Homo sapiens: one gene and its partners. The protein of the gene in region 5 purifies or fractionates together with the protein of the main gene of each other region. This does not show direct contact. Each region holds a gene or a part of one and is shown on either strand. Other genes may lie near its edges.

The links.
Region 1: the proteins of ZNF467 (region 5) and RPF1 purify together in Homo sapiens (affinity purification with mass spectrometry; one large-scale study listed by BioGRID and IntAct). This does not show direct contact.
Region 2: the proteins of ZNF467 (region 5) and BUD13 purify together in Homo sapiens (affinity purification with mass spectrometry; one large-scale study listed by BioGRID and IntAct). This does not show direct contact.
Region 3: the proteins of ZNF467 (region 5) and NOC2L purify together in Homo sapiens (affinity purification with mass spectrometry; one large-scale study listed by BioGRID and IntAct). This does not show direct contact.
Region 4: the proteins of ZNF467 (region 5) and TAF1A purify together in Homo sapiens (affinity purification with mass spectrometry; one large-scale study listed by BioGRID and IntAct). This does not show direct contact.
Region 6: the proteins of ZNF467 (region 5) and DDX31 purify together in Homo sapiens (affinity purification with mass spectrometry; one large-scale study listed by BioGRID and IntAct). This does not show direct contact.
Region 7: the proteins of ZNF467 (region 5) and BMS1 purify together in Homo sapiens (affinity purification with mass spectrometry; one large-scale study listed by BioGRID and IntAct). This does not show direct contact.

What each region holds. Positions count from the first base shown.
Region 1 is NC_000001.11:84,485,766-84,489,265, forward strand, and holds part of RPF1 (ribosome production factor 1), read left to right. Parts: intron 1-3,500.
Region 2 is NC_000011.10:116,752,488-116,755,987, forward strand, and holds part of BUD13 (BUD13 homolog), read right to left. Parts: intron 1-3,500. UniProt on the Homo sapiens protein: Involved in pre-mRNA splicing as component of the activated spliceosome. As a component of the minor spliceosome, involved in the splicing of U12-type introns in pre-mRNAs.
Region 3 is NC_000001.11:952,757-956,256, forward strand, and holds part of NOC2L (nucleolar complex protein 2 homolog), read right to left. Parts: intron 3,460-3,500; coding exon 3,339-3,459; intron 3,258-3,338; coding exon 3,167-3,257; intron 1,327-3,166; coding exon 1,248-1,326; intron 1,137-1,247; coding exon 1,026-1,136; intron 533-1,025; coding exon 419-532; intron 1-418.
Region 4 is NC_000001.11:222,569,434-222,572,933, forward strand, and holds part of TAF1A (TATA box-binding protein-associated factor RNA polymerase I subunit A), read right to left. Parts: intron 1,233-3,500; coding exon 1,102-1,232; intron 236-1,101; coding exon 77-235; intron 1-76. UniProt on the Homo sapiens protein: Component of the transcription factor SL1/TIF-IB complex, which is involved in the assembly of the PIC (pre-initiation complex) during RNA polymerase I-dependent transcription.
Region 5 is NC_000007.14:149,767,136-149,770,588, reverse strand, and holds part of ZNF467 (zinc finger protein 467), read left to right. Parts: intron 1-32; coding exon 33-149; intron 150-1,388; coding exon 1,389-1,499; intron 1,500-3,453. UniProt on the Homo sapiens protein: Transcription factor that promotes adipocyte differentiation and suppresses osteoblast differentiation in the bone marrow. Enhances the osteoclast-supporting ability of stromal cells.
Region 6 is NC_000009.12:132,594,741-132,596,983, forward strand, and holds part of DDX31 (ATP-dependent DNA helicase DDX31), read right to left. Parts: intron 1,683-2,243; coding exon of another isoform or gene 1,628-1,682; exon of another isoform or gene 403-1,627; intron 373-402; coding exon 126-372; 3' UTR 1-125. UniProt on the Homo sapiens protein: May have DNA helicase activity and RNA helicase activity. Probably have ssDNA and RNA dependent ATPase activity. Plays a role in ribosome biogenesis and TP53/p53 regulation through its interaction with NPM1.
Region 7 is NC_000010.11:42,813,795-42,817,294, forward strand, and holds part of BMS1 (ribosome biogenesis protein BMS1 homolog), read left to right. Parts: intron 1-2,804; coding exon 2,805-2,878; intron 2,879-3,500. UniProt on the Homo sapiens protein: GTPase required for the synthesis of 40S ribosomal subunits and for processing of pre-ribosomal RNA (pre-rRNA) at sites A0, A1, and A2.

The DNA of each region.
Region 1 (3,500 bases), on a different chromosome or scaffold from region 5:
GATAACTTGAATGTTACTCCTCAACTTAACACTCATTGTAAATCATTTTTTCCAGTTTGATAAGTGAGAAATTGTATATCACTGTAGTTTTAATTTGCAGTTCTCATTTTGAATGAGGTTGAACATCTTTTCATATTTTTTTCCCCTTGATTGATTGATTGTGTCTCTTGCCCATTTGTCTACTGGGTAGTGATTTTATATAGGAAAGTCAGGGTAGGCTTTATTGAGAAATTGACCTTTTAGCAAAGACTTGAAGGATGTGAGGAAATTAGCCATCTTTGGGCAAAAAGAGCCCCAGAATGAGAGAACACCCAGTGCACAAGCTCCAAGGCAGGAGTGTATCGAATATGCTTTTTAAGAATAACAAGGAGGCCATTGTGACTGAAATCAAGCAAGGGAGAGAATTGTAGAAGAGGTCCTAGGAAAGTATGATGAAGAAGAAAGACCAGATCAGTGACTTTGTTGGCCGGTATGAGGACTTTGGTTTTATACTTAGTGAAATGAAGAGCCACTGGGTGGGTTAGAATAGAAGAATGACGTGGCCGGGCACAGTAGCTCACGCCTGTAATCCCAGCACTTTGGGAGGCCGAGACGGGTGGATCACGAAGTTAGGAGATTGAGACCATCCTGGCTAACGTGGTGAAACCCCATCTCTACTAAAAATACAAAAAAATTAGCCAGGTGTGGTGGCGGGCACCTGTAGTCCCAGCTACTCGGGAGGCTGAAGCAGGAGAATGGCGTGAACCCGGGAGGCGGAGCTTGCAGTGAGCCGAGATCGCGCCACTGCACTCCAGCATGGGCGACAGAGCGAGACTCCGTCTCAAAAAAAAAAAAAAAAAAAAAAGAATAGGAAAATGATGTGATCAGACTTAATTTTTAGAAGTAGTTGGCTGCTTTACTGAGAATGTAGCTGGAGAGGTAAGTAGAGAAAGGAAGCTACTAAACAAATCCAGGAAAGAAATGATGGGCTTTCATCATGACCTGGGCCAGGGTAGTTACAATGAAAGTGGTGAGAATTGATCTGATTCTAAATATTTTTTCCCCTGGGTATATTTTGAAATCAGAGCTGCTTCAATTTCCTGACAAATTGGATGCAGAATATGAGATAAATAGAGGATTCAGAGATGGTATTAAGGTTTTAGACTGAGCAAATTAGAAGGATGAAATGGTCATTGACTAGATGTGGAAGACTGAGTGAAGGAGATTTAAGGGGAAATCAAGAGTTCAGTTTTGCATATATTATGTTTGAGATGACTCAAGAGTTTTTAGAAGAGATGTCAAGCAGGTAGTTGGGATGTGAGCTTGGAATTCAGGAAAGAGGTCTTGAGATAAATTTGGGGGTAACAGGCATATCAAGGGTGTGTGTACATAAAGGTTTCCCTAGAATGTTTACCTACAGTAGGATAATTTTGAGTCATGGAATGTGTAAATGTTTAACTTTACATAATTGTACCAAAATATTTTTCAAAGTAGTGGTTGTATCATTTTATACTTTTGTGGTACAAGAGTAGTGTTCCTGCTCATCCACATTCTAACCAACTCATGGTATGTTCAGACTAATGATAAAAGGCTGTCTCATTGTGGTTTGAATTTGTATTTCCTTGTTTTCTAATGTTGAGCATCATTTAATATAAGTTGTTTTCTTTAGAGATAAGCCAGTTCATGTCTTTTGCCCAGTTTTCTATCATGTAGTATATTTTACGCATTTGTGGAACTTCTCTATATAATTTGGATACCAATTCTTCATACATATTAAAGAAATCTTCCAATTCATGAATTCTCTTTTTATTTTCTATGGTGTCTTTTGAGGACCAGGACCAGAAGTTCTTGATGTAGTTGAGTTTTTGAAAAATTAGCACTTAAAGCTTTTTATGTAATATTTAAGAAACTTTTCTCTTTCCTGTGATCATAAGTTCTTCTTTCCTTCTAAAATAATTAAAGAGTTGCCTCTCGTATTTATTTGCTTGATTGTCAGGAATTGTTTTCTGTTTGGTGTGAGAATGGAAACCAGTTACTTTCCTTCCTGTCTCCCCAACCTGTCCTTTTGCATATATATATTTTGAATTAGTTTTAATGTACTCTTACAATTCTGTGTTCTACTTCTTAACAGTTCATTTATATATAACCAGTTTATCCAGTACTGGTTATATATAACCAGTAGTTATATTTTTGGAGTAGTGCAGCCTTTCCCCACAATGAATTGTAATGCCATGATATATATCAAATATCTATATATGCTTGGTCTTTTTCTGGGCTATTTGCTTCGTCAGTTTGTCACTGCATCATTAGTTAATTATTTAGCTTCATAATAAGGCTTCATATCTATAAGGGCAAAATGCTTCTTTCACTCCTGCCCCTAAATCCCCTCTCTTCAGATGTGTTTTGGCTTTTCCTAGGCCTTTGCTCCTCCATATAAATTATAAATGGCACTAAATCAGATCAATTTGGGGATACGTATGTATGTATATAATATATATTTACTTAGGTCTCCTTTAAATAGTGAAATGTATTTCATGTATTTCGTAATTCTCTTCATGGAAGTTGACACATAAATCTTGCTAGAGCTATTCCTGGATATCTTACAGTTTTTGTTGGTGTAAACTGCATGTCTTTGAAAATTGTTTTGTTAGCCAATTTATAAAAATGCAATGGATTTTTGAATAGTGATGTTCTAACCAGTAGCCTACCTAAATTCATTTCTAATTTGTTGGGATATCGTTTTCATTTTTCTGTTTAGATAACCATTTCTGCAAATGACAGTTTTCTTATTTTGACCCATTTTTCTCCCATTTTTGTGCCTTCTAGAACTTCTAGCCTAATGTCAAATAAATAGAAAAATCAACAGTGCCATCTTTGCCACGTTCCTGATTTTCAAAAGAATACTTCCAATGAGTCAACATTAATATTTGTGTCACTAGAGATAGATTATTATGAGTTAAGGGTTAAGTAAATTTTACTTATTCTTATGATTTTGTTTTGTTTTGTTTGTCATGAATGAATGTAGAATGTTATTAGATGTTTTCTTTGCAAATATTGAGGTGATTATGTGGCTTTTCTCTTACTGCATTAAACATCATAACCAAATTGGATTTATTAATTCTTTGCTTAGAATTAATTATATCTGTGTTCATGAGTGAGACTACAGTAATGTCCACTTTTCGTTCCTAATATTATTTTATTTTGGCTTTTTCTCTTTTTTAAATCAGTTTTTACCAAGATATCTATTCTCTTAGTCTTTTCTGAGTACTTTCTTCTTTGATCCTGTTGAATCTTTGTTTTCTAATTCATTTATATCTCCTTTTATCTTTATTATTTTCTTCTGCTTCCTTTGAGTTTATTCTGTATTTATTGATTTGCTCAATATATATTTTTTCTAATATGAGCAGGTATAGCCATAAAACTCTTTCAGACTACCACTTTTGGTATATTCCACAAATTTTAAAAGGTACTACTTTCATTAATGTTTAAATCTGAGTGTCTCTCAATGGAAGATTTGTCTT
Region 2 (3,500 bases), on a different chromosome or scaffold from region 5:
AAATACTAGTAAAAAAAAACTAGGTCAGGGAGAATTCTAAGTTTTGGGTCCAAAAATTAAAAAACAAAAAACAAAAACTCGGTAGCAGGGAACATCTGTAGGGTTGTGCTATAAAAAGATCTACTTCTGGCTGTATGTATGGCAAATGAGTGTTCTGAAAAATCCTCCTTCTACCAAAAAGCCTACATACAGTGAACTGCAAACGGAACTAGTAAGCTAGCCTGTAACCACAGCTACCCTAAAGATATCTGCCAAGATGAGGAACTACAGTCAACTTATAGATATCTGCCAATATCAGAAAGAAGAGCCTTAAATTTTTTTATTCTGGAGTTGGGGTCTCACTATGTTGCCTAGCCTGGACTTAAACTCCTGGGTTCAAGCGATCTTCCTGCCTCAGCCTCCCAAATAGCTGGTACTACAGACACACGCCACCACACCTGGCTGTTGGATTTTGACGGCACCCCGAGGGACAGAAGACAACGCCTTAGGCCCATATAAGGTGGGGAGACAGATTCTAGACATTGCAGAGTAACCCGAACAGACTAACCTATCCTCAGTTAGCAACTATAAAACCTAGACAAAACAAAAAAAATAGGTATTTGAAGGTGTGGAAGAGTGACCAAAAGTAAGTATGAACTGGATGAAGTCTATATGTGAAAAGAGATTTGCTGGAGGGCAACTTCCCAAACAGCATGGCTCATGAAGGCAGAAAGCCACAGGCTTACTGGCTTGAGGAATTAGTGCAAAGTGGGCAGAACAGCTAGGAAATTAGGGGGGAAATCTTGGAAGAGAAGGAACTACAAAAGAGATGAACCTCAAAATCTACATACAAACCCTAGTCAAATCCTTGGCTAACTGTTAAATGACACATGTGCAGAGAAAATACCATCAGGCCAATTAAAAAAATGGCAGCTAGAAACTAAAAGAACTGAGCAAAGATTGTAGCTGCCGTCCACTGCAAAGGAGACAGTTTGGAGTTCAGCTATGTTAACTACCTGCTAGAATAAAAACTAACACACTTAAGAGGAATACAGTGTAACAGAACTCAAAGTCTCTACAGTGTATCATTCATGATGCGTAGTAACAATTTTAAAAAGTGACCAGACAGGTAAATAAACAGGAAAATGTAATACACACTGAAGAAAAAGCTGTCAATAGAAACCAATCCTGTGGTGAATCCAATGTTGCAATTAGCAGACAGGACTTCAAAGCACTAATTACATATCATAAATATTTTCAAGAAGAGGAAAATGTCTCATAATGAACAGATGGGAAATCTCAGCAGAGAAATGTAAGCTATTAAATGGAAATTTTAGAGTTGAAAAACAAAATAAACCAGCTAAAACAAAAAATCCACAATTGATAGTAACTGATAGAAAAATACAAACACAAAAAACCCAGAATACAGGCGATCTAAGATCTAAACACCTTGACCTCACTGACTTTTATAAAACACTACCTTATATAGCTACAGAATATACGTTCTCTTCAAGTGCAAAGGAAACATTCAGAAGATAGACTATCCACTGGGCCATAAAACACACCTTAACAAATTTCATTTTTATTATTGTTTTTTGATACATGGTCTCACTCTGTCATCCAGGCTGGAGTGCAGTGGTGCAATCACAGCACATTGCAGCCTCGACCTCCCTGGGCTCAGTGATCCTCCCACCTCAGCCTCCACAGTAGCTGGGACTATAGGCGTGTGCCACCATGCCCGACTAATTTTTGTATTTTTTTGTAGAGACAGGGTTTTGCCATGTTGCCCAGGCTGGTCTCAAACTCCTAGGCTCAAGCAATCCGTCTGCCTTGGGCTCCCAAAATGTTGGGATTACAGGCATGAGCCACTGTGCCTGGCCAACAAATTTCAAAAGATCAAAATATTACAGTATATTATCTGACCAAAATGGAATTAAATTATAAGTAAATAGCAGTAAGATATCTAGAAAAGTCCAAATATTTGGAATTAATGCACTCCTAAATAACCCATGGAGCAAAGAATAAACCAAAAGGATAATTAGAAAATATTTTGAACAAAATCCAACATACATTCCTGAAAACAAAACTCTCAGCAAAACAGGAATAGAAGGGAACTTTAACTCCATAAAGGATATCTACAAAAAACCTATACAGCTACAACACATTTAATAAATGTGTTGTAAAAACTAAATGTTTTCTTCCTGAGATTAGGAACAAAGCAAAGATGTCTGCTCTCACTACTTCTATTCAACATCTGCACTGAAGTGCTAGCTAATGCAACAGGGCAAGGAAAAGAAACAAAAAGCATCTAGATTGTAAAGTAAGAAATTAAACTGTATGCAAAGATGGAAGACCCTCTAGGTACAAAATCTGATGGAATCTATAAAAAGCTATTGTACAAAGTGAGCTTTACCTGAAGGAAAACAACTGACAATACAGTGTAACAGAACTCAAAGTCTCTACAGTATATCATTCATGATGTCCAGTAACAATTTAAAAAAGTGACCAGACAGGTAAATAAACAGGAAAATGTAATACACACTGAAGAAAAAGCTGCCAATATAGAAACCAATCCTGTGGTGAATCCAATGTTGCAATTAACAGACAGGAAGGACTTCAAAGCACCAATTACATATCACAAATATTTTCAAGAAGAGGAAAATATCTCATAATGAACAGATGGGAAATCTCAGCAGAGAAATTAAGCTATTAAATGGAAATAGCTCAAGCAATGGAAATGCCAGTGATAACATTTAAACTTTCAAGTGTAAATTAGAATTCTGAAAAACTGTGAACTCTTTAACTTCCCATTATTTAAAGAGTTTTGTGATAAGACCGGAAGTGATGTTAACAAAAGTGATTTTCTGATATTGTATAGTGGAAATATGTCAACATTTGGAAGGTCTGAACAACTCAGCAAACCAATATTTTACAAATGACCAATGCATGATGTTATAAAATCATGCATGGGTAAAAGATCCACTCAAAGTATTAAAAAAATTAATATAACAGTAAGGAAAGTTCTTTGATCTGGTTTCAGGTTCCACATAGCTCACCTTTAAGAAACCAGCACTTGTTGAGTTTTTGTGTAACATTAAGAAATATAATATGCCTTCTCTTTCTAACTACCTATGTGTGAGGCTAAATTTTCTTTCTATACTTCAACTGAACAAATCACAACAGACAAATACAGAGTCAAGTTACCTATTATTAAGTCAGACATTAATGAGATTTGCAAAAATGTAAATCAATGCCATCCTTCTGTTTTTTCACTTGGAAAATGTAATTATTTTTCATTTAAATATACAGTAATTATGTTAACATAATTAGTTTATTTTTTTTTGAATGAATAAATACTTTTTAAATGTCTGAGTTTTAATTTATAATATGGTAAATATCAATATATATAATCCACATCAACAAAAGCTTTTTGAGGTCATCAGTAATTTTTAAGAGCGTAGGCCAGGCACGGTGGCTCAAGCGTGTAATCCCAGCACTTTGGGAAATCGAGGCAGACAATC
Region 3 (3,500 bases), on a different chromosome or scaffold from region 5:
CAGCCTCAGGCCTGGGAGAAGCTGGGGCAGAAGCTCCTGCTGCACACTGGGCCCCTCTGGGGGCTGAGGGTCCCCACATGCAGGCCACCCATGGCTTGGGGACGGGCAGTAGGACTGTACCCTGGCCATGGCCTCAGGTCCCAACACCCAGTGTCCTCCTCCAGCCAGAGAGGCCCTCCCCTGGGGAAGCTGTGTGAAGCAGGGTCCAGGTGGGGCCCTGAGAAGGCCGAGGGCTCTCTTCCCTGCCCACCACCCCCAGGTGCTCTGTGAGACATTCGTGATCCAAGGGCCCAGGTCTGCTCAGAGCTGCAGTGAGGGTCCAGTGAGGGGCACCAACCACAAAGGCAGCCCGCCCTGCCCTTAGGCCGAGATTTCCAATGCAGATGCTGAGGGACACAGACGCAGGGCCCACCACTACCTTGAGGACGGGGCCAAGGAAAGTGTCCTTCTTGTGCCGGCAGACTCTGCTGAGGACCAGGAAAGCCAGCACCCGCAGAGACTCTTCCCCAGTGCTCCATACGATCACCATTCTCTGCAGAAGGTCAGACGTCACTGGTGGCCCCCCAGCCTCCTCAGCAGGGATGCCCCAGGGCCAGCACAGCCCTCCCCAGCCAGGCAAAGGCTCCCATGGCCACCAGCTCTTCCCAAAGCACCTCGGGGGAGCCGTGAGTTAGGTGCTCAGTTACAGAAGTGAACAGAACAGGTGTGTTGCTCCTTGTGAGAAGAGGACCACAAAAGTTTACCACGTCAGACACGCCGACGTATGTGAGATCACACCGGGAAGAAGATACCTCACCGTGGCTTTGCTCACGGACTGAGCCGCGCTGCCCGGGCAGGCAGGGACTGCCTGAGACAGAAACCCCAGGTGGGGGTGGGGGCCAGGTGCTTCTGTGGCCTCTCTAGCCAAGCGGAGCCAGTGGAGTGTGGGCACCACCTGTGCCCTGGCCAGGAGTGGGATGTGGTGGGGGTAGCCGTGTGGCCCCCCGACCCCATGACAGACACAGGGAGGGGACTGGGCCACGAACCTTGAGCAGCATGCGGCACTGCTTGGGGAAGGTCAGGAAGCAGGGCACCAGCACGCTGATGTGCCGCAGCACGGCCGCCAACACCGTCGTCTCCGACAGACAGGACACCAGCTGGGGGCAGGAGGGGACAGTGAAGCCCCAAACCCATGTATTCTGGGATACAAAAAAGGACCGACCACCAGATACAGCCAGGCCCCCGTGCCCTCCCCACCAGAATAGCACCTGTATGGCCGAGCCCAGGTAAGCCTTGATGTCCACACGAAGCTTCCCCCAGAGCGGGCTGCTGGACGGCTGCAGCATCCTGCAGAGAGACCACCCACCCCTGGCTGGGAGGCCCCACGGCTCGGACGCGAGGCTGCTCAGCATGTTGGCGCGTGCCCTGGCCAGCATAGCCTCTACGACTCTGCAGAGACCCCCCGTCTCTCCACTCAAAAAAGCTCAGGGCCCCTTACAGCTGGACAGACACAGGGGCTTAGGAGGACCCTCTCAAGTGCATTAGCTCCTCCTTCAGTGGCCTTGAACTCCTGTCTGCCCTGCCCAGGGTTGGCCACCGCCCTAAGAGTCCCCGGAAGTCCCAGCCTCCAACTCCCTCTCAGACATAAACCTTTTCTAGGTCCCCTTGATCACATCCCCACCGTGAGACCACACGAGGTCCCTAAGCCCAGCAGCTGGTACTCAGCACCTCTGGGGTCGCCCAGGCACCACCAACTGCCGCAGACTGGTTTCCTTTGGCCCACATTTGCTGCACAAAGAAAAGAAAATCAGAGGGCAGGTGTGGAGACTCATGCCAGTACTCACTGCACTTTGGGAGGCCAAGGCAGGAGGATCAAACTCCAAGCCCAGGAGTTTGAGACCAGCCTGAACAACACAGTGAGACCCCGTCTCTACAAAAATATACAAAATATTATCCAGGCCTGGTGGCGGAGTCCCAGTTACTTGGGAGGCTAAGGTGAGAGAATCACTTGAATCCAGAAGGTACGTGTCGCAGTGAGCTATGATCACTGCATTCCAGCCTGGGCGACAGAGCAAGATCCTATCTCGTAAGGAAAAAAAAAAACCAAAAACCAAACAAACAAAACAAAACAAAACAAAACATTTACCAGAGCCCACGCAGTAGGCGCTCACTAAAATCTGCTGAAGCATGGGAAGGACAAAGGGCAGGGCCCCAGAAAGGCCCCCCGTCCTCGACCCTCCTCACACCTGTGCTGACACTGGCTGCTGGGCACCTGCAGCTGCCCACCCAGACCCAGGAGGCAGCTCTGCTCCCCACGGCCTGACTCCCTCCGGTACAGCTGCTGCCTCGACAGGGGTCCCTGACCTGGTGGCTCAGGCTGCAGTGCGTGCTGCCTCCCAATCGCTGCCTGTCCCTCCACCCCCATCTGCCAGCTTCCTTGTCCCCTTCGGACAGCACTGCCTCCATGTGGACATGGCTCTGTTCTATCCGTCCAGCCCCGACCACTACCACCAGCAACAGTGCCCCTGTCTCCTGAGCCGCTGTCGGCGAGACCTCTCCTGTGGGTCTCCTTTCTTCCTTTGAAGGTGTCCTGGGGCAGTTCCAACTCTAGGCCTCCACTGCCTCAAGGTCACATGGCTGCACAGCCCCGGAACCCCAACGTGCTCCATGCTCTACCAAATGCTTGGCCGTGCGTCTCTCTTCTCTGAAAACCTTCCACGGCCTTCTCTGCCCAATCTTTCTCTAAAGGGGAAGTTGAGGCCCTCAGGTTCTCAGCATTGATGAGGCCCCTGTCTACAGACACACACAGCTCCAGGAAACAGGCCAGTCATAGTGCAGAGATCAAGGAGTATGGACAGGACTTACAAGTTCTTACAAAGGGAAATAGAGCAAGAACCCTAACCTGGGAAAATCTGAGAGCAAAGGCAGCTGCACACGCCACACCTTCTGAGACTCTGAGCAGACAACTTCCCTTTTCAGGAAGGAAAGAAGGTGGGGCCGCTCCAACTGGCCCCAAGTGCCCAGCCTCTCCCAACGGTCCCTCGTGCCCCGCTGCCTTCTCAGGGTCCCCAAGAAGACGCTGGCTCTGTTGCCATGTCTCTGTCCTAGCCACAAGGCCTCTGGCTTCTCCTGTGTGTGGTCCCGACCCACCTTCCACCCTACCCCCCTTCACCCCCTCCCCTCTTACCTGCTGCTATCCTTTGCCACCTTTCCAAACAGCAGCTTCTGGAGACAGCCAATGAGGTCTCTGATGCAGAAGGTAACCAGAGCATTGAATGCTGCAACGAAAAGGCCTGGATGTACTCACGGGACAGAGAACGCAACAGACAGCCTGGATGCCAGGCTCCCCCCAAGCTCACCAGCACTGTCCGTGACCTGGAATTTGTTGGCCTCAGCACTTTCCTGGTCCCCTCGGGTGGTGGCCACAGCTGCTCGGAACGCCTGTACCACTTCATGGAACAGCTTTGGAGTGAGGCGTTGCTGAAGGAGCAAGAGTACCAGGGGCGTCAGGGGAGCTGAGA
Region 4 (3,500 bases), on a different chromosome or scaffold from region 5:
TTAGAAAGCAATGGCCTAAGAATGTTTTAATGTAGATTCCCAACCCTGGTCAAACATCGAGATAAAAATTCTATACCTTAAGCACACTTATCAATTTTGATCTTGGTGCCTTCTGTCTCTTTAGAAAGTTGTATAAGTAGATATGGGCATTTGGATTTGATGGAAACTTTTCATCATATGCATAATTGGTGAGTACCTCTTGGGCTCCATCTCGATCCCCATAGAATTCCAGCATCTATATAAAATAAATCATAATATCTTAGCTGAATTCTGTAAGACAGCTATACGAAAAATAATACACAGCATAAGTTTACTGATGGGTATTTTTTAAAAATCACAAAACTGACAGGGTTCCCATTTTTTCCCTGTATTTTGTTACTACTAATAAACAATGCAGCAACCTCAACATAAATTCTCTTCCTATAAAAAATAAGAGTCCTCAAAGCAGGGAACACTAATGCTCGAAAATGTGATGCAGCTAACCTCAGTGCCCTACATCACTGCAGCCACAAAAGGAGTGCATGAGAATTGTAATTCCTTTCATCCTGTTCCCATCCTTACACAGGAATCTCCAGATTATGATTTTGGAGATTATCTTCTGACAACACAATTATCAACTTGCCACTCATTAACTTTCACAAAGCAAATTATTTTGAAGATTTATTCCTAGTGCCTAGCACCAAGGCCCTCAGTCCTTTTACAATGACTCTGGGATGACAGGACATTCTTATGAACTTCCAAAAAGCCATCATTCTTCACCTCATATAGTATGACCCATTTTTTCAGATTTTTGTCCTCTTTCCTTCTATATCCCACCAAATCATAAGGTATCTTACTGCATTTCTTTTAAGCTCAACAAGAATAAGATTGAATTAACATTTACAACTATACTGCTATTTATTTTATAGATACTTGGCCACGACGGGTTATACAGTGGTGAAAATAAACAAATTCAGACCAAAAAAGAGACACCGTATTTTTGCTTTCTTTTAAATAATTTTTTCCATTAGTTTCTTTCTGATCAATAAAGATTAGGCATGCAGTCTTTGTATAGGCTTTTGACAAAATAAAACCAATAAATTTAATGAAAATTCTACTTACTTCTACATAACTCTTCACAAAAGGGTCCCAAACTCCAGGAATTTTAATCAATGCAGAAATATTTGCAGATGTCTTCCAGCTGTGGTTGAACACATCCTGGGCTACTGCATTGTAAGCATAATCATCCTTATCTGCCCAAAGATACAAGATCTTTTAACATTCATTAAACATTGAGGACCTCTGTTAAATTAGTAATTTAAAAAACTATCTGCGAGAAAAACTCAGTTGCTGATAGCTACAACAGTAAATTCCAACAAATATTTAAAGGAAAATACTAATTCTTCACAAATTCTCCCAAAAAAAGGACAGAAAAGAATACTTCCTAACTTATTCTAAGCCAGTATTACCATGATACCAAAACCAAAGACAACACAATAAAACTACAGATCAGTATCTCTTAAGAATATAGCTGCAAAAATCTTTAACAAAAATACTAGCAAACTGAGTCCAACAACATATAAAAAGCATTATACATCATGTCCAAGTCGGATCTATACTAGGAATGCAAGGTTGGCTTAACATCTGAAAATCAATTAATGCAAATAATAAAATAGAGATCTATTGATCTAAACCAAATCAAAAGAATACAGGACCAAAACCTCATGATCATCACAATAGACACAGAAAAAGCATCTGAAAAAACACAATAACCCTTCATGATAAAAAGACTCAACAATGTAGGAACAGAAGGAACTTCCTCAATCTGATAAAGGGCATCTATGAAAAACTCATAGCTAACATTGAACTGAATGATAAAAGACTGCATGCTTTCCCCCTAAAATCAGTAATAAGACAAAAATGTCTTTTCTCACTACTTTTGTTCATTATATTGGTGGTTCCAGCCAGGACAATTAAGCAAGAACATAACAAAAAGATATCCAAGATTGGAAAGGAAGAAGTAAAACTATCTCTATTTGCAGATGACATGGTCTTGTACACAGAAAAATCCTAAGAACCCACTAAAAATTTACTGAACTAATAAATGAGTTCACAAAGGTTGCAGAGTACAAGATCAATACACAATAATCAACTGTATGTCTATACACTTGCAATGAACAAGCAGAAGATAAAATTAGGAAAACAATGCCATTTGCAAAAGCATCAAAAGTAACAAAATGGGTAGAAATTTTACAAAAGAGATGCAAAATTTTACTCTGAAAAGTGATACTGTTGAAAAAAAATTTTTTAAGACCTAAATGAATGAAAAGACACTCTGTGTTCAGTTGAAAGACTTACTATTGTCAAATTGATCTACAGATACATGTAATTCCTATCAAAAACTCGGCCTTTTTGCATAAGTTGACAGGCTGATTCTATAATTCATACGAAAATGCAAGGGACCAAAGAAGAACAAAGAATCTTTAAAAAGGACAAAGTTGGATAATGTACTCTATGACTATGGCCAGGCATGGTGGCTCACACCTATAATCCCAGCACTTTGGGAGGCCGATGTGGGTGGATCACCTGAGGTCAGGAGTTCGAGACCAGCCTGACCAACAAGGTGAAACCCCGTCTCTACTAAAAGTACGAAAAAATTAGCTGGGCGTGGTGGCACACGCCTGTAGTCCCAGCTACTCAGGAGGCTGAGGCACAGGAATCGCTTGAACCTGGAAGACACAGATTGCAGTGAGCTGAGATCCTGCCACTATACTCCAGCATGGGCAACACAGCAAGACTCAGTCTCAAAAAAAAAAAAAAAAAAAGTACTACAAAGCTGTAGTAATCAAGACTGTGTGATATGGGCAGAAAGAGAGACACATGTAGATCAATGGAAGATTTAGAGTCCAGAAGTAAACCTCTACATTTATAGGTAACTAATTTTCTTTTGTGTGTGTGTAAGACAGGGCCTTACTTTGTCTCCCAGGCTGGACTGCAGTGGCATGATTTCAGCTTACTGAAGCCTCACTCTACCTCCTGGGCTCAAGTGAACCTCTCACCTCAGCCACTCAAGTAGCCAGGACTACAGGCACACGCTACCACACTCAGCTAATTTTTGTATTTTTTGTAGAGATGCAGTTTCACCATGTTGCCCAGGTTGGTTTCGAACTCCTGAGGGCTCATGCGATCTACCTGTCTTGGCCTCCCAAAGTGCTAGGATTACAGGCATGGCCACTGCTCCCGGCTGCTAACTAATTTTCAGTAAGGGTGCCAAGACAATTCAGTGGGAAAATAATAGACTTTTCAATAAATGCTACAACTGGATATCCACATACAAAATAATAAAGTTGGGCCCCTACCTACTTCATAAAAATTAACTCAAAGGCCAAAATATAAGAGCTAAAACTTTAAAACTCTCAGAAGAAGTGAAAATCTTTGCGACCTTGCAGTAGGCAACAGCTTCTTAGATGTGATACCAAAACCACAAGCAACAAAAGAAGAAACAGTTAAATTAAACCTCA
Region 5 (3,453 bases):
TTTACTTGGACCCATCCTTCTGCCTGTAACAGGATTCTCTGTGGGACAGCCAGAGATGGCCCCCCAAAGTGAGCCCAGGGAAGGATCCCATAATGCCCAGGAGCAGATGTCCTCTTCTAGGGAAGAGAGAGCACTGGGGGTGTGCTCAGGTAGGTAACAGGAACCCTGGAAAGGCTCAGGGAGGAGTCCCCCTGCTTTCCTCCTGCCCTCCCTACCTCTCTCCCTTCTTCCCTCCCCCCTCCCTCCCTCCCTTCCTTCTTTCCTTCCTTCCTTCCATTCATCAAATATTTATTGAGCACCTATTATGTGTGGGATGCTATTCTAAACATTTGGAATACCTCAGTGACCAAATAGTCAAAGATCCCTACCTTCAAGAGCTTAATCCTAATGAGTGCAGAGAGTCAGCAAACAATAAATAAGGAAATTTCTAAACTATGTTCAAAGGTGATAAGAGCTCTGGGGGAGAGGATAATGTCCAGTGAAGCAGGTTGAAGGGGGCCGAGACAGCTGCAGGTGGGGGTGGGTGGGGCATGTTATAGGATTAAATAGGGTGAGGAGACTGGGTTTCTTTGGGAAGGTAAGATTTGTGCAGGATTTGAAGGAGCTTGGGGAAGCCGGGCATGGTGGCTTATGCCTGTATTCTCAGCCCTTTGGGAGGCCAAGGTGGAAGGATTGCTTGAGCCCCATTCGAGACCAGCCTAGGCAACATGGCAAGACCCTGTCTCCACAAAAAATTAAAAGTTAGCTGGATGTGGTGGCTCATGCCTGTGTTCCCAGCTACTTGGGAGGCTGGGGCAGGAGGATCCCTTGAAGCCCAGGCTGCAGTGAGGTATGATCGTGCCACTGCACTCCAGCCTGGGTGACAGAGAGGACCTTTCTCTAAAAAAAGAAAAATAAAAGAGGTGAAGGCGGCAGCTCAGCAGATTTGGGAAAAGTGCTTCAGGCAGGAGTACAGCCAGGACAGAGCACTAAGGCAGGAATGTGCCTGGCTTTTGACATCCTGATTCTCCCCAGTGATTTGCTTGGAACCAGGGTCCATCTGGGGGCTGGGAAGTCCCCAGCCCTTCTCCTAGGGGCATCAGGTCAGGGGACTTCCTTGCTTCCACTGTCTTACATACACATATTCCAGGAACTCTTCACAGTGGTGGCTCTTGTAACCTTGTAGTCCATCTCATTACATACCCTTAGCAGCCGCCCTGCTTGAAGGAGTCTGAGGCAGCCCCAGGGAAGCTGGGAACTCAGCCCCTTAATTCAGGTAGGATGTGGGAGGAACCCTGTGGGCCCTGCTGGAGCCAGGGTTTCAAATGCTCCTGCTTCCCAGCACCAGTGGGGCCCTTTGGCCATCTGTGATGTCTCCAGAGTCCTTGAGGTATCCTATTCTCTGCCAGGGCACGAGGCCCCTACACCGGAGGAAGGTGCCCACACAGAACAAGCCGAGGCTCCCTGCAGAGGCCAGGCGTGCTCAGCACAGAAGGCTCAGCCTGTGGGTACCTGCCCAGGTGAGTCTTCCCATCACTTCATCCCACCACGGGCTCAGGCCAAGGGAACGGGGCCCAGCAAGCTCCGGAGCTGCTATCTCATGAGGCAGGTAATCCCCCAAGACAGGCAGTCCAGGCCCTTCTAACCCAAGTTGAGTTCAGGCCCTGGCACCTTTCTGCTGTGGAGCTTCAATGCCGAAAGGGAATTTCACATCTGTAGATGGCAGGAGTCAGAGAGGCTGGTCACCAAAGAGAAACACAGCCTCCCCTCAAATGCCTTCTAGAAATCCTACCTCCCCCTCTTTATTTCTCCCAGTCTAAGTCTAATTACAGTTGCCATGAAGATACATGGCTTTGATCAACATTTTCACTGCCTCTCCCCTGACATGCCGCCTTCCCCAGCTTCCACTGATCGTGAGGGTACCCAGATGCTCCACATCTGCTGTATTCAACTCATCTCCTCATACCCAGGGTGATCAAACTGCTCACTCTCTCTCAACAATCCCACCATGACTTCCTTCCACTGCCACCATCCTTACTACCTTTTGCCTGAGGGATATCATTTATTCAGCAAGGATTTATTGAGTGCCGACTACATACAGGCTGTGTTAAGTACAGTGGAAAGAGATGAACTGTAGAGTTACCTGGACCTGGTTTGAATCTTTGTTCTGCATTTACTAGCTGAGTGCCCTTGGATAGGCCACCTTGCCTCCAGGAGCTTCGGTTTGTGAAGGTTTGTGACAGTGTGTGTACAACACTTCATCTACAGTTGGTCCTCGAGAAGTGGCAGCAGTCCCCATTTTTATCAGACACATAAAGACACCTTTCTTATTAGACACAAAAGAAATGGAACACAAAATGTCCATACCTCAGAAGAGAAAATCTGGTTGAGATGACCTTAATATGAGCTAGAACAAAGAATTAAAAGAACAGTATAAAGGCAAGTCACAAATAAGCACAAAAGTGTTAACAGTAAGTGCTATAGGAGTTTATGCCAAAAGATCCGCATGCACTGGGAATTTGTCAAAAAACATTAATTTGTGCTGCATTTTAAGAAAGGTGTAGACTTCAGTTCTGAAAGGGGTGGGGTGGAGGATGGGAAGACGTTCTAGGCTGAGAAGATCTTGAAGCAGGAAAGGGGAGGAGAGCAGCTTGGCTGAAGTGGAAGGTCCATGCCTGGGAGAAAGAAAGTTGGACTAGGGTGGGGTGAGCCTCAGATGCAGCTAGAACCTGTTTTATCTTCAAATAATAGGGTGCTGGGCTGGGCACTGTGGCTCATGCCTGTAATCCCAGCGACTCAGGAAGCTGGGGTGGGAGAACTGCTTGAGGCCAGGATTTCAAGACCAGCCTGGGCAACACAGCGAGACCCCATCTCTGAAAAAGTAAGAAATATTAGCTGGGCATGTTGGTGCACACCCATAGTCACAGCTGCTTGGGAGGCTGAGGTAAGAGGATCACTTGGGCCCAGGTGTTTGAGGCTGCAATGAGTCATTATCGTCCCATTGCACTCCAGCCTGGGAGACAGAGCAAGACCCTGACTCAATTAAAAATAAATAAATAGGAGCTATTGATGGTTCTTGAGTAGAAAAGTAAAGAGTGCCACAATGAAGGTGAAAGCAGTATCACAGTGTGATAAGTAGACAGGGGTCTGGAATCAATGGACTGATAGAAGAAACTGGGAGTACCTCTGATTGTGGAAGTCCACGTGTGATGGAATCAAGGCTCAGGCCAGACAGGAACCCAAATTATCTGCTTAAATGATTCACAAATGAGAATCACTTTGGGAGCTTTAAAGATGAGAACACGTTCGTGGGCCTTGCCCCCATTTGTGCATTTTCTCAACGTTTCCCAGGAGCTGATGATGCAGCACAGGCGTGGGAGCTTTAAACTAGTCCAACTCTTACACAAAGGGCAAATTTTCTTAGCGGACTAAGAAATGTAACTCAAAGAGGTTAAGTGACTGAACCAAAGTCAC
Region 6 (2,243 bases), on a different chromosome or scaffold from region 5:
TTCTTGGGGACGTGGTATTCAGGCAAAGGCGCAGTTATTTTTCACAAGCCTCCTCTGACAAGAACTGGACATCAATCCACTGCCACCCGGGGCTTCCAGGTTCCACTCGAAGACCCAGAGAGATTTTAAACTTTCTGGGAAGTCTTGCTGTCCCGCTGTACACCTTTTTGGGTTTTTCTCCATTTTAATGTTTTCCCACGGCCAAAGCAGGGTGTCGGCTGCAGACTGTGCTGCAGGGGCCGGCCACCAGGCTCTCCAGGTGCGTTTTGCTTTTTGACCTTGGCGATGTCGGCCTCCATGCCGCTTGAGTATTCCGAACGTAGGATTTCAGCGAGGCTGTGTTTACTCTGGGTCTTCTTATGAAGGTCAGGCCTGAAGAACAGTAACAGCAGAGAGGGAAAAGAAACTTTATTATTTTTCTTTCCCATTTGGAAAGAGGCTGATAGCAGCTGGTTCTGAGACTGTGAAGCTGACATTTTTGTATTAACAGAAGTACAATCCCTTCAATAGTACTTGTTTTGATATTCGATGCACCAGAAGATTAGATACGGCGCTGACAGATTTTCATAACAGCGGCAAAATATCATGGCATTTTTAAAAGTGAGGCTTTGTTCTGTGTTGTTTTCATGGGGAAAAAAAGAACTATACACCCTCATGCTCTGATGGCAAATGAGGTGTATGATACAGCGGTTTGCCAAAGGACAGGGAAAAACCCACCGTCACACTCAACAACATGAAGCAGTGAAAGCTCACGGCAGCTTCCCAGTAACCCCTAAGCAGCTTAAAGCAACTGGCCTCCTCATGGGCTCCTGAGGGCTTCAGGACTCAGCCCTGCGGGAGCAGAGTCCAGCAAGTTCCACGCAGCCCTCCAGGGTTCCACAGTGAAGGCTGGGATGACAGCCAGATAGCTCTTTATGAACGGAAAAAACTCTTAAACATATTTCTGACCCTACAAAACCCAAACCCAGGGCACAGCCTGGTCAATGTCTGCATCTAGGATTAGACCAGCAGCTTTCTGCAGCCCACACAAACCCGGGTGTTAGAGGGAGGTCTCTCCCTACCCTAAGTCACTCAGAAAATGCCAAAGGTTGAAAATCAATTTCCGATGTCGAATCCTGATAACTGTTCTGAAAAGATGGCAATTTTACCATTTGATCGGAAGATCAGAGGAGGAAATTTGTAGATGTTCAATCATACATAAGAAGAATGATTATGAAAACTGAAGAGTAAAACAATGTTTCTTAAGACAGGATTTTAACCAAAGCAACAACAATAAAACAATTACCAATAAATCCACACTTCCTTGCTGGCAACTCCTTCAATACCAAAACGGCAATGTCTTAGGATACTATAGTGTCATGGAGTTCTCACAAAGACATATGTTACGTTCTGCTACTACATTTAGAGCATTTTCTTTGCTGTAATCAGAGAATAAACTGAACTGAAACTGTGGTCAAAATAAATGTAACAATGCCTTTAAAACCCAAGAATTAGAAATAAGACTAATAGTGTGTTGTTAACCTGACTGTGAAAGCTTGTAGAAACCCATTATAAACGAGCTAAAGCAATAATACCTGTTTCTAATCACACTCCAGAGGACAGGGTGACAGTCATACAATGGTGTTTTCTATTGCAACATACAGGAAGACACATTCAAGCCAACCTCTGCAGGAAAAGAAGATCTGAAACAAGGGGACAATGAACAGATAACATTTAAAGGCCAGGAGTTTATGGGGTGAGCACATCAGGGCAGGATGTAGTGAGAAGATTAGAAGTATACAGGGAAGACTTCCTGGGGTCTGTGGGAAATGATTCACATACACAATCTCTTACAATCCTCGCTCAACAAGGTGGGTACGGTTATTATCCTCATTTACAGACAAGGACACAAAGACTCAAGGAGGGTAACCTGCCCCAGGACCACATGGCTGGTAAGTGGAGAAGCCAAGAGGCAAACTCAGGGCAGAGAACGATTTGCCGGGTCAGCGGGGGCAGGACTCAGCTGGACCAAGGGTGGAAAATGGTGAGATGTGATGGGAGGGGTCCTCTGTGGTCTCCTAAGGACTACTTCAGCAGGACAGTGGGGCAGGAGCCAGGCAAGTGAGTAGGGAGTGGTGAGGGGAGACAGCAGAGCTGCAGGGTGGAGGAGGGAGAAGCCAGGGTTGGAACTTGACTATCACTCATCAGCTGAGGACACAGAATGAGTGACTCAGGCTCTGTGCCTCAGTTTCCTCACTGAGAAT
Region 7 (3,500 bases), on a different chromosome or scaffold from region 5:
TTCTAAATTTACCAGAGACAAATTCCTATATTCTCTTCCTCTGATAATGTCTTTATTTCTCTCTTCATTTCTGAAGGGTAGTTTCATGGGATATAGAATTTGCAACCAACAGTTTTTTTGTTTGTTGGTTTGGTTTTTTTGTTTGTTTCTTTGGTTGGTTTTTTTTAAGCACTTGAAAATGTTGTGCCACTTCCTTCTGGCCTCCATGGCATTTGAGTTGGCATGTCCCTACAGGCATTCTGCCATTTTTGGTCTTTGTTTTTAGTTTTGAAAGTTTAATCAGTGTTGCTTTCTTTTGTTATACTTTGAGGTTTGCTCAGCTTCTTGAATCTGTAAGTTTATATCTTTCACTAAATGTGGGAAGCGTCAGGAATTAGTTATTTGCATGCTTTTGCAGCTCTGGTCTCCTGTGGGACTCAGATAACATAAATGCGGGGTCTTTTGTTATTGTCCCACAGGTCCGTGCAGCTCTGTTCATTTGTTTTCAGGTTATTTTCTCTCTATTGTTTAGACTGGGTGAATTCTGTTGATACAGGTTTCAGCTTCTCTGATTCTCTCCTCTGTCGTCTCCACTTTTACTCAATAGAGCCCATCTAGATAGATTTTTTTTTAATTTCTGTTACTGTATTTTATATTTCTGTAATTTCCATTTGATTCTTCTTCAGTTTCTTTGCTGACGTTTTCAGTTCTTTGTTTGTTGCCATAGGATTTGTAGTTGCTTGTTGAAGCATATTTATGCTGACTGTTATAAGTGATGAGTCAGATGGTTCCAACATCTGCCTATGTAATTTTTTTATTTTTGCAGGCAGTCCTCCTATTTGGGTTTAGTCTGTAGGTCCTGGTCTACTTTGTGGGCTGTGATTCCAATGGCAATTTAATTTCAGAGCCTTCATGGTGTTATTTTGGTCTGTTTGGCTTATATGTATCACTGGGATTCTCCCACCAGTCCCTGCTGTTGCCCACCTGAGGGAACAGGGGAGCTGCCCCAGGCTGGGCCACCTGCTGCAGCTAGGTGGGTGGGGAGTGGTGGTTGTCTTGGTGTGTGGAGCTGGTTTTCTTGTTATGGGGAAGATTTCCTTTGATCTGGGGGGACTGAGTCTGCCTGGGTTGCCTTCTATTGCTACGTTGGGAGTTGGGAAACTCTGGGCCTGGTCAACTTCCTATTGGATGAGGTCCAGGGAGACACCTGGCCACTATGCATTCCCTAGTCCTAGAGTCCCTCAGCAGCCTTTTTCTTTCCACCTTTCAGAATTCTCCTTTGATCATCTCCTGTCTATTATTTCTTAGGAGGGTATAATGTGTTATCTTCTCTAGACCAGAAATCCTTAATGGTGGTTTCAGGTTGTAACTGTGCTAAAGGGAGAATTGGCGTATTTTTGATGTTGAGTCTTTCTTTTCAAATGAGGACATATCATTATTCAGTAGATAATATTTACAACACCTACTTCCTTGGGTTGAAGAATGTGGTTAAGGCAAGGAAAGTACTTAACACAGTGCCTGGTGTGGAGAGCACCGATGAGTGTTGGTGGTGATGCTATTCCTTTTGTCCTTTGGTAGCATATTAAAGCTTTTCTTCTTTTTTAAAAAAATAAAGTTCTGGTGCATTTCTTGTTAGGTTTATTCCTATTTTATCCTTTTTTGCTTTTATTACAAATAGGAGCTTCCTATCTATTATAACTTCTACCTGGTTCTTTGGCCCTTATGTGAAAATGTTTTAATAGCCTTCTAAACATTGCTCTCCCAAATGAGTTTTAACTTGCCTATTTCTTTTATTTTCCTTTTTTTGAGACAGGGTCTCACTCTGTCACCCAGGCTGGAGTTCAGTGATGCAATTATGGCTCACTGCAACGTCTGCCTCCCGGGCCCCCAAAGTGCTGGGTTTACAGGCGTGAGCCACTGCACCCAGCCTTACTTGTCTGTTTCTTTTAAGAGTGGGAACTATAATTGAGCCCAGAGCTCCAAAAACAAATGAAGGAATGAATGAGTGAATAAGCTCTTCCCATGGGTTTGGTGTGGTTTGGGGCTCTACTCTTAATCTAAATGCTATGTTTTATATAACCTAAAATTTCCCCTAGGTGTGTTACACGATTGTGTTGTGTTGAACTTACATTGAGACTCCTTTTCACATGTGCTGGTATCAGCGTGGAGCTTTTCTATTCATTCCTTGAACTATTCGTTTGGGGGACACACATAGACCTCTGTGTCTTTCATAAAGAGTGTCCATTGGCCAGGTGCAGTGGCTCATGGCTGTAATCCCAGCACTTTGGGAGGCTGAGGAGGGCAGATCACGAGGTCAGGAGTTCGAGACCAGCCTGGCCAATTGGTGAAATCCCATCTTTACTAAAAATACAAAAATTAGCCAGGCTTGGTGGCGGGTGCCTATAATCCCAGCTACTCGGGAGACTGAGGCAGTAGAATTGCTTGAACCCGGGAGGCGGAGGTTGCAGTGAGCTGAGATCATGCCACTGCACTCCAGCTTGGGTGACAGAGTGAGACTCTGTCTCCAAAAATAAAAAACAAAAACAAAAGAGTGTCCATTGTGTATACTGGAAAAATTGAGATTGGGATTTTGATGTGAAGTGCGGAAATGTGGATTGGGTCCATTTAGTTTACCTAAACAGATGATGAAATACTAACTGTTTTACAAAGCATTCCCTAGTGCAAAGTTTTGCCTGTGTGTGTAGTGACAGGAACAGTGAGAATGAGGCTTGGAACGCAGAGCACACTGTGGGCCTGTGGTAGGTGGGGCCAGCAGCACATGCATACCTGGCTCACAGAGCAGCCTTTGGGTGTTCTTTTCCCAGAGGAGCTCTACGGTGACTTTGAAGACTTGGAAACAGGGGACGTGCACAAGGGAAAATCAGGCCCCAATACTCAGGTATGACTTTGTCGTAGCTGGCTGTTCTTGGTCATTGTGTTCTGAGAGAGGCCCACATTGAGAAATGCAAATCTTACTTGTGATGTGTGAAGATTGCAGACTGGATAGATAGATTCCTTCCTAAAGGGTGGGGATGTGGGGACCAAAGAGAAGCTTTCTTGTTTACTTGTTAAGTTTTGGATGACAGTTACTACCGTTTCTTGCCATAGTCATTTGCCAAGTCCACTGTGATTTTTCACTCACGGAAGTCTTAGCTTCTTGGACTTACATTCAACCATTGGCATCATTCTCCTTTTTTTAAATTTAAGTGTCATTTAAAAGAATGAAGTCCCTGTTCTCCCTAGTATTTCTTTAGAACAGGGTCTGGGAGCATCTGGGTGAGGGACACGTCTGTTATTTTTATTCTAGTTTGTGTTCCCAGCCAGCTTAAGGATTAGCAGCTAATTGTAATGCAGATGTAACCATTTCCTGTAGCAGTACCATGTTATTCAGAGACAAAGGTTGTGTTGTGTTTTCTTTTGTTTTATTGATAATGATAACAGATTTTTGCTAAGATTCTTGTTTAAATAGAACTTTAAAAAAGCTAATGTTTAAAGAAAAGACCTTCATAAACATACACAAA